Linked DNA regions of Homo sapiens: regions 1 and 3 are each reported to be linked to region 2. Evidence: microRNA targets listed by miRTarBase, many of them from high-throughput screens and not tested one by one. Region 2 holds a microRNA gene; each other region holds the end of a gene's coding sequence.
Evidence for each region. The annotated mature microRNA hsa-miR-4473 reads CUAGUGCUCUCCGUUACAAGUA and lies in region 2 at 1,507-1,528, opposite strand. An mRNA with a match to its seed (bases 2 to 7 or 8) in the 3' UTR can be bound and repressed. Matches are read on the target gene's strand: a 7mer-m8 pairs with bases 2 to 8, a 7mer-A1 pairs with bases 2 to 7 and ends in A, and an 8mer does both.

Region 1: miRTarBase lists LRP12 as a target of hsa-miR-4473. Seed matches in the 3' UTR shown: 7mer-A1 at 1,772-1,778 and 7mer-m8 at 1,814-1,820.
Region 3: the mRNA of RABAC1 is a reported target of hsa-miR-4473. The part of its 3' UTR that is shown has no 7-base or 8-base seed match.

What each region holds. Positions count from the first base shown.
Region 1 is chr8:104,488,254-104,491,578 of GRCh38, reverse strand. LRP12 (LDL receptor related protein 12) reads left to right here. Exons shown (of 7, transcript NM_013437.5): 7 at 40-2,343. The coding sequence ends at 906. Among named protein-coding and RNA genes, the nearest start is that of MIR548A3, 5.5 kb to the right of the region's middle.
Region 2 is chr9:20,409,655-20,412,654 of GRCh38, forward strand. It overlaps MIR4473 (microRNA 4473), which reads right to left and starts at 1,584; the gene lies at 1,494-1,584. The region is part of intron 5 of MLLT3 (MLLT3 super elongation complex subunit); the gene reads right to left.
Region 3 is chr19:41,953,720-41,957,020 of GRCh38, forward strand. It overlaps RABAC1 (Rab acceptor 1), which reads right to left. Exons shown (of 5, transcript NM_006423.3): 4 at 3,299-3,301; 5 at 2,964-3,215. The coding sequence ends at 3,127. Among named protein-coding and RNA genes, the nearest start is that of RABAC1, 4.0 kb to the right of the region's middle.

The sequences.
Region 1 (3,325 bases), not on the chromosome of region 2:
TGTTGTTAACTATCTTAAGATCTTTTCTTATTTTTGTAGGCTTCTGTTTTGGAAAATCTGAGGCTAGCGGTACGATCTCAGCTTGGATTTACTTCAGTCAGGCTTCCTATGGCAGGCAGATCAAGCAACATTTGGAACCGTATTTTTAATTTTGCAAGATCACGTCATTCTGGGTCATTGGCTTTGGTCTCAGCAGATGGAGATGAGGTTGTCCCTAGTCAGAGTACCAGTAGAGAACCTGAGAGAAATCATACTCACAGAAGTTTGTTTTCCGTGGAGTCTGATGATACAGACACAGAAAATGAGAGAAGAGATATGGCAGGAGCATCTGGTGGGGTTGCAGCTCCTTTGCCTCAAAAAGTCCCTCCCACAACGGCAGTAGAAGCGACAGTAGGAGCATGTGCAAGTTCCTCAACTCAGAGTACCCGAGGTGGTCATGCAGATAATGGAAGGGATGTGACAAGTGTGGAACCCCCAAGTGTGAGTCCAGCACGTCACCAGCTTACAAGTGCACTCAGTCGTATGACTCAGGGGCTACGCTGGGTACGTTTTACATTAGGACGATCAAGTTCCCTAAGTCAGAACCAGAGTCCTTTGAGACAACTTGATAATGGGGTAAGTGGAAGAGAAGATGATGATGATGTTGAAATGCTAATTCCAATTTCTGATGGATCTTCAGACTTTGATGTGAATGACTGCTCCAGACCTCTTCTTGATCTTGCCTCAGATCAAGGACAAGGGCTTAGACAACCATATAATGCAACAAATCCTGGAGTAAGGCCAAGTAATCGAGATGGCCCCTGTGAGCGCTGTGGTATTGTCCACACTGCCCAGATACCAGACACTTGCTTAGAAGTAACACTGAAAAACGAAACGAGTGATGATGAGGCTTTGTTACTTTGTTAGGTACGAATCACATAAGGGAGATTGTATACAAGTTGGAGCAATATCCATTTATTATTTTGTAACTTTACAGTTAAACTAGTTTTAGTTTAAAAAGAAAAAATGCAGGGTGATTTCTTATTATTATATGTTAGCCTGCATGGTTAAATTCGACAACTTGTAACTCTATGAACTTAGAGTTTACTATTTTAGCAGCTAAAAATGCATCACATATTCATATTGTTCAATAATGTCCTTTCATTTGTTTCTGATTGTTTTCATCCTGATACTGTAGTTCACTGTAGAAATGTGGCTGCTGAAACTCATTTGATTGTCATTTTTATCTATCCTATGTTAAATGGTTTGTTTTTACAAAATAATACCTTATTTTAATTGAAACGTTTATGCTTTTGCCAACACATCTTGTAACTTAATATACTAGATGTTAAGGTTGTTAATGTACAAAAAAAAAACCCTTATACTCACCTGCGTTTTCATTTGTTTGACATTTGTCTATTATTGGATTTCATTATCATATGAACTTGTCAGTGGGAAACAAACTGTCTAAAAATTTTTCTCTTACGTTTAACATACAATCATGTGAAATTTAGGCAGAGTTCGATAAATTACTGGCAAAAACAAAACTCTTTTATAAAGATTTTCTAATGTTGACTTTAATACTCTAACATGGTACAAACCAAATGGTAAAATCCCAAGTCATTTCTTTTTTCATCTCTATTTAGCAACAGAATTAAGTGGATGAAGATATTCTACTATGCATTAAATCTTGAACTTTATAAAACATGTACAAAAATTGTACAAGATAAGTTCCACCTGGTAATGTCTTTCCCTAATACAGGGTTGCGCTTGCATTGGACCCTAGGGATTTGCACTAAAATTATATCAAGGTCTCAGATGAGCTTAGTGCACAAGCACTATCACTTTAAATACTATTATTTGCTACCACAGCAACTATATATTTCCATAGCTTTTGGCTGGGGGCGGGGGACATTTTTATTACAACTTGAAATTGCTTTGCTGGTTTCATATTTATTTGTTGTATTTAAAAAATACATTGTTGTAAGAGTGATTTTTTCAATATATTTTATTCCTGGGGGGGATCATGCTACACTCTCAAAAGAAAATTAAGAAATCATTCAGATCATCCCCCCTTTTTAAGTAGTGTGAATTGCAAAACCCAACATATTTTTTTTACTGTCAGTTGCGGTTTATTTATTCTTTAACTGTCTGTTTTAGTAGTTTAATGATTATGAAAAATGTATCTGTGTGTGATTTGCTATTTATTAAATTTTAAGTACTTTGCTGAATGTCATTTTAAAGCATGTTTGAAGTCTTGTGTATTTGTCTGTGTTAATGCTGTCAGGAGGAACTGACTAAGATGTTTTAATATGTATCAAAAATTAAAATGATTTTTTTTATTGCCTTGAGGTACTTTTTAAATCAAAGCTGTTCTTTATTTGTTGAATTTTGGTGCATATACAAATTCAGGCCATAAAATATGCAATATATCTAGAATAAAAATGATTAGAAGGAGATCATTCCTTAACTACTTTATAGTAAAGTAGTAGCTTTTACCAGTACTCGAGGGTAAAATTTTCTAAGGACTTGAATATTATTTTGCTTGAGATTGCCCTTCAATTGATGTATCTCACAAGATGAGAGAGTTTAATTGATTAAACTGCCTTTTAATTGACGTATCTCACAAGATGCAGTAACACAATCAGTTCTCTTTTTAAATTGTTTTCACATACATTTTAGACCCCTATAATATATTCTACTGGCAGAATTTGGGTTACCAAATAATCTTTTATGCCCTAGTACTAATATATTATCAAGTACAAGGGTTTTGGTTTTCTAGCATATGTTTTAATTTATTATTTTAATTAACTAATACATCATCCTGGTTCAAACAGTAAAATGTAAATTCCTCTTCTATCCCAACACCCATCTTTTAGTTCACTTGAAAGAGACACATATCAGTACCAGATTCTTGTATATCTCTCTAGAAATAACCATATATGTACATAGGCATATCAGTACCATATATAGTAATGCAAATTGTAACATAACTATGCATACATTTTCTGTACCTTTTCTCAAAGGGAAATAATACATCATTAGAGTTTGAATATTAAAAGTAAGATCAAGCATTTCTGTTATTTGTTTTTTTTACATTTAAATCATTGATCTCTCCTGAATTTAGGGCTTCACTATCTTTTTTCCAGATGACTACCTAGTTTTCACAAAGCTATTTATTAAATAATAAATCCTTTCCTTACTAATTTGAAATGGAACTTACATAGTACATTTCCATATTATTTGGGTATGTTTCTACACTGTATTTTCTTCTGTTGATCTGCTTTTCTCTTTTTGTACCAATCCTTTATTGTTTTAATAACTGTGATTTTTAAGTGTTTCAAAT
Region 2 (3,000 bases):
TTCCCCTATCATGCTTTCTGTATTTGCTAAATGCTCACCCACTATAACACAGTCCTTCTGCCTGTCTACCTTATCCAAGCCCCTACCAAATTCTTCTGTAGGGGAAATTTGTTGACAAACTTTCATGTGACAGTATTACATCTCTTTATGAGAAACATTTCAATAATCACAAAATGTATTTAAAAATTATTCTTTCAGTTATATTAACAGTAACTCAAAGATAAATCATTTCTTAGGATATTTTAACAGCAACAGCAGAAAACAAAAATGAAAAAACAAAAATCTACCAAGTGCCTACCCAGTGCAGTACTTGGTATGTTCTTGTCCTTTATCTCATTTAATTAAAAAGCTGAAAGATCTGAGACACTTTGGCTTATCTTTCAGCTTAAAACTTAAGACTTTTTATCTTGTATTTTTACATTGATCATGTAGCAGAACCATATCAACATCAAGACCATACACCTTGTGACGACAAAATTCAGAGCAAAGTGACAAAAGACAAAACTCAAAACAAAGTGGCTTAGAGTACCAAATATTGCAGCATATAAACCCACAACCTTGAAAAAGGACACCAGAGTTCTGCAAGAGAAAAAATCTTGAGTTTGAAAGAGAAAAAATCTCTTTCAAAGCTACAGGTTATATAGGTACCCAGAAGTCAAGTCATACATAGCAATAGCTAACTTACATTTTTTTTATTAGTGTGTTAACGTTTCACCCACATTGATTTATTAAATTTTCAACAATAATCCTACAAAGAAGATACTATTATGATCTCCATTTTATAAAAGAGGAAACTAAGAAACAGAGAAAGTTAAATTATTTGCCCAAGATCCCTAGTGGCACTGAAATTTAAGACACAGCCTGTCTGACACCAGACAGCAGAATTCTAATTACCTATCTACCTACCTTTCACTTATCAACAAATAAGTGATCGATCCCTCAAACACCAGCCAGACATACAAACCATGGATGTCCAACTTCTTTCTCTCTTCTCACATACAAAGGATATGAAAATCCTACCAAAAAGGACCATATCAATTAATAATCTAAGCTTCCTAACCCATCTTAATACTACTGACATTTTTATATAAAACCTGAGTAGAATTTGATTCTAGAAAAGGTTCTTTAAAATGTTCATCTTTTTAAACTATAAGACCTATACTGAGGCGAGATGTTTTCTTTATAGACATACTAGACAAATAATCATTTTCCCCAGCCTTCCTTATACTTCAAATTCTTCTGATTTATTTGTGTCTTTTTTCTGTTTCCAAAGTCCATGATCTCTGCCCATTATGTCTAAAATCACCCATCACCCCATGTCCCACAAATGAATACGAATCTGGCTCATATTCAACTAATAAAGCTGGAAAGGACCTTAGAGAGATCAGGTCATCTAATCACACTTACTCAGAGGCAGACACACAACTAGGACAATGTGCACAGTCACCCCTGAAGTTGGGCCTGCCCCAAGCCACCAAGTCAATTACTAGCCAAGGTAACAGGGGATACTTGTAACGGAGAGCACTAGCAGTCCATAGCAGTCCATAGCTTAGTGTTCTCCATTACAAGTGTCCCCTGTTCCTTTTGTCTTGCTGGCAGGAGGGATGCCAGGTAGGACAGGTAGGAGACAGTCCAAACAAAGCCTGTCTTTTCTACTGGATAAATGGAATTTCAATTCTCTCTCACCTTCCTTTGCTCATAGAAAGGCCTTTGGGTTCATGGTTTACATGACATCACTTTTGTTAATTCTCTTCTGTTACGCTACCTACTTTTCAAGTATTGAACCAATAGCAACAACAATAAAGCCATTACTAGTACCAGAAGACTAATAAGGAAAGTACGGCTGTTGGGTTTTATACACAAATAGTACCTGAAAGTCTTTACAGGCTTTCTCAGCAATGCTATGCAGAGTACATTACAAAAACTACTATTGTAATCATTGGATTTGTGGCTCTAATATGTCATATACCATTTTGAAAATTTACTACCTACTGTAAAGTTTTCCAATTCTAACTCTTCATTCCAGAAGACTTTTCAAGGTATACTTTGAATAAATACATCAAATTGAACAAGAATTTTATTAAAAGGAAGACATACTTTATAAATCATATATAAATGGGAGGGAGCAAGAGGCAGACAAAAGGAGAATAAACAAAATTACCTAAAGAGGAAGACCATCTGTGTTTCATGTAGAAAGAGCTTTCAATGATGCTTTATGAACGCCATTTGGTCTTCTCATAAATCGGCAAACATTCTAAAAAGGTGCCTTTCAAAATTTTGACCACTATAAGAAACACACACACCTTCTCTGAAATAAAATTTTCATAAGCCATTACTTACCCATACTAATTATAGTTTTCTGATTTTTTTAATGCTAGTGATACGTTAAATTTATTTCACAGCTCACTAGTGAATCACAACCCATGATTTGAAAACCTCTATACTAGAAGAATTGCAATGTGTTAGAATATAAAATGGCAAAGTTGCAAAATTTGACAATTTTGATTGAATAATCACAACCCAACAGCATTTCAGGGTGATTGGAAACAAAAGTCAAACACACACAAAAAAGGTCCAAGTAACATCTGCATTAAGAATAAGCTTCAAGTTAAGAGGAAAGGTAAGAAGCAAAGAAGGAAAAATAAATACTTGAGTTATTGGAACAAACACATTCAACTCTCATCTCCATTTCATAAATTATGACTATAAAGCCTTTACCAAATACTGGAACAAATTTTCCCAATGTCCAGTATTTTATATGCTACTGTCCTAATCTGATCTTCTACCAAAATTTCGAGATTAGCTATAGAGAGTAGGGAGATCTGTGGACCACTGGGGATCAGTGTCAGCACCATGTCCTGACCCTGACTGGCTTTCTACCCAGAACAGTACAAACCCGGCACAGCAAATCTGCTACTATGCCCTCCTAGCCTTTGCCAGCATTTAAACTAGAGACATCTGTGGGCAGCCCAAGGGACAGAAAGAAAAGTGTTCTAAGAT
Region 3 (3,301 bases), not on the chromosome of region 2:
AGTAGCTGGGATTATAGGCATGTGCCACCATGCCAATTTTTTTTTTTTTTTTTTTGAGATGGAGTCCTGCTCTGTTGCCTAGGCTGGGGTGCAGTGGTGCGATCTTGGCTCACTGCAACCTCCGCCCCCTGGGTTCAAGCAATTCTCTGCCTCAGCCTCCCAAGTAGCTGGGATTACAGTGCACCGCCACCATGCCCGGCCAATTTTTTTGTATTTTTAGTAGAGACGGGGTCTCACCATCTTGGCCAGGCTGGTCTTGAACTCCTGACCTCGTGATCCACCTGCCTCGGCCTCCCAAAGTGCTGGGATTACAGGCGTAAGCCACCGCGCCAGGCCAATTTTTGTACTTTTAGTAGACACAGGGTTTCACCATATTGGCCAGGCTGGTCTAAAACTCCTGGCCTCAAGTGATCTGCCTGCCTCAGCCTCCCAATAGTGCTGGGATTACAGGTGTGAGCCACCATGCCCAGCCTATAAAAATTATTGAGATATTTTACTCCATTTTCATACTAAATCTTCGAAGTCTGGTGTGCATTTCACACTCATAGCATGTCTCAGTTTGGACCAGCCATGTTTGAGGCAGCCGCATATGGCTGGCCACCATATCTGACAGGAGAATTCCAGAACAGTGGGCATCAGTGGGCTCTGGGTGAGCACCTGCTGCATCAAGGATGAGTGGGTGAGTTCTGCTGAGGAGACACGAGGTTGGAGAGGCTGCATCCCTGAGGCCTTGGCACTCGCTGTCCCTCTCCTTGGGAAACTCCACCCACTTCTTGTGTCTCCTCAGAGAGCCCTCCCAGACCACCCCTATCTAAAGTAATTGGCGGGGCACGGTGGCTCACACATGTAATCCTAGCACTTTGGGAGGCCAAGACAGGTGGATCACCTGAGGTCAGGAGTTCGAGACCAGCCTGGGCAACACAGTGAAACCCTGTCTCTACCAAAAATACAAAAAAATCAGCCGGGCGTGGTGGCAGGCGCCTGTAATCCCAGCTACTCGGGAGGCTGAGGCAGGAGAATCACTTGAAACCGGGAGGTGGAGGTTGCAGTGAGTCGAGATCGCGCCATTGCACTCCAGCATGGGCAACAAGAGCGAAACTCCATCTCAAAAAAATTAAAAAATAAAACTAAAAATACAAAAATTAGTCAGGCGTGTTGGTGGGCACCTATAATCCCAGCTACCTGGGAGGCTGAGGCAGGAGAATAGCTTGAATCTTGGAAGTGGAGGTTACAGTGAGCCGAAATCACACCATTGCTCTCCAGCGTGGGCGACAGAGAGAGACTCCATCTCAAAAAAATAAACAAATAAATAAAAATAAAAAAATCAAGTCACTTCTTAGGCCCTCTCGGCCACCTCCCTTGTCTTCATCTGCCTGGCACTTTCCCTCCCAAGTGTGTTTCTCTTTTGTTACTGCTACCACGTGGCAGTCTCCACCTCATGATGAAAGGCAAACTGGACCCGGCACGGTGGCTCATGCCTGTAATCCCAGAACTTTGAGAGGCTGAGGCAGGAGGATTGCTTCAGCCCAGGAGTTTGAAACCAGGCCAGGCAACATAGTGAGACCCTGTCTAATGAAAAGTTAAAAAAAATTAGCTGGGTGTGGTGGCGTGCACCTGTGGTCCCAGCTGCTCAGGAGGCTGAGGTGGGAGGCTCACTTGAGCCCAAGAGGTAGATGCTGCAGTGAGCAGTGGTCACACCACTGCACTCCAGCCTGGGCCATAAAGTGAGACCCTGTCTCAAAAAAACAAAAGGCAAGAAGCAAACTGGGCTGGACACAGTGGCTCACACCAGTAGTCCCAGCACTATGGGAGGCTGCAGGGGGAGAATCGCTTGAGCCCAGGAATTTGAGACCAGCCTGGGAAACAAAGCAAAATCCATCTCACAAAAGCAAACTGTGTCTTTCATCTCAAGCAGAGTAAAACCCAAAGCCCTCACCGTGGCCCACAAGGCTCCCTGGCCTCCCACACTGTCCCCCTCGCTTATCTGCCCCAGCCACGCCCACCTCCTGGCTGCCCTCGAGCCTCCTGGCTGCTGCCATCTCCCAGGCTATGCCCCTGTGGCTTCCTCTGCCCCAATTATTCTTCCTCCAAAGGATCTGGGCTGCTCCCTCTCTCAATTTAGGTCTTTGGTGAATGTCACGTCAGGGAGGCCTTTTCTGGTCACCCTCTTTAACCCACAACTCATTCCCGAACTTTCTCTGTGCAGAAAAGAGTTAACCTGGCAGGCTCCACAACAGACTGCTGTCCTTAGACAGGCCTGGGTGCACAGTTGGTCCTTGGCTGGGAACTTGGGTGTTGGGGGGGGGGTCTTATCACTTCCTGATAGAGTGGCTCGCTGCATCTATCTAGGCTGTTCGTGCAGGCCTAGAGTGGCTTGCTGCATCTATCTAGGCTGTTCGTGCAGGCACAGGCCTTCTTTCTGGGAGCCTGGCATTTTGGTATATGTTGGAGAGAAGGTGCTCTTGTGGCCGCCCCCATGAAACCAAGGGCGCTGAGGCTAGGATCAGAGTGTCCCTGGCTGACATTTCACACGTCACCATGATCCACTGCTGGAGGAATTAGGTGTGGCCTCTGGAAGTGCATGCCTGGTTTCCCGAGTTCACTCCATGCACCTTTCCTTTTGGCTGACTTGGCTCCATACCCTTTGATGAGAGTAAATCAGAGCTGTGAGTGCAATTGCATACTGAGTCCCCAGTCCCAGAGAACCATCAAACCTGGGGTGCTCTCTGATTCCTGAGTCCTAAAGAACCATCAAACCTGGGGGTGGTCTCGGGGACCCCCGGCACACTGTCCTTCTCAACTCTTTTCTCCTCCTGAACACTCACCACCATTGGGCATCCCATAATATTTTACCTGTTTACCTTGTCATCGTCTTGCCCACACCCCAGGTTCCACCCCAACCCTGCTCTGTGCAGTATTCCCAGCTCCACCCATAGAGACCCACAGAAGATGCTGGGGGAATATTTCCTGAATGACACCCATAACAGCTTTATTTTCAAAGGCGGGATCCCTCCCCGGGCTTGTGATGGGACGGCGCTGTGGGCCCGAGCAGCAGAGCCGTGCAGGACAGGCATGGGCAGGGGTGGGGCAGCTGGCCCGGGAGGCCGGCAGGTCCCAGAAGACACCTCACACGGGTTCCATCTGCAGCTCCTCCCCGTCCACAGCCTCAATCTGGTGGAAGGCAGCGTGGGAGCCGATGACCACCAGGGTGGCTCCTGCAGGAAAGCCGGCAGCTCAGGGCCACACTCCTGCACCTGGCTCCCACCATCCACCCCAGCTGCTCAGACCCTGTACTCACCCA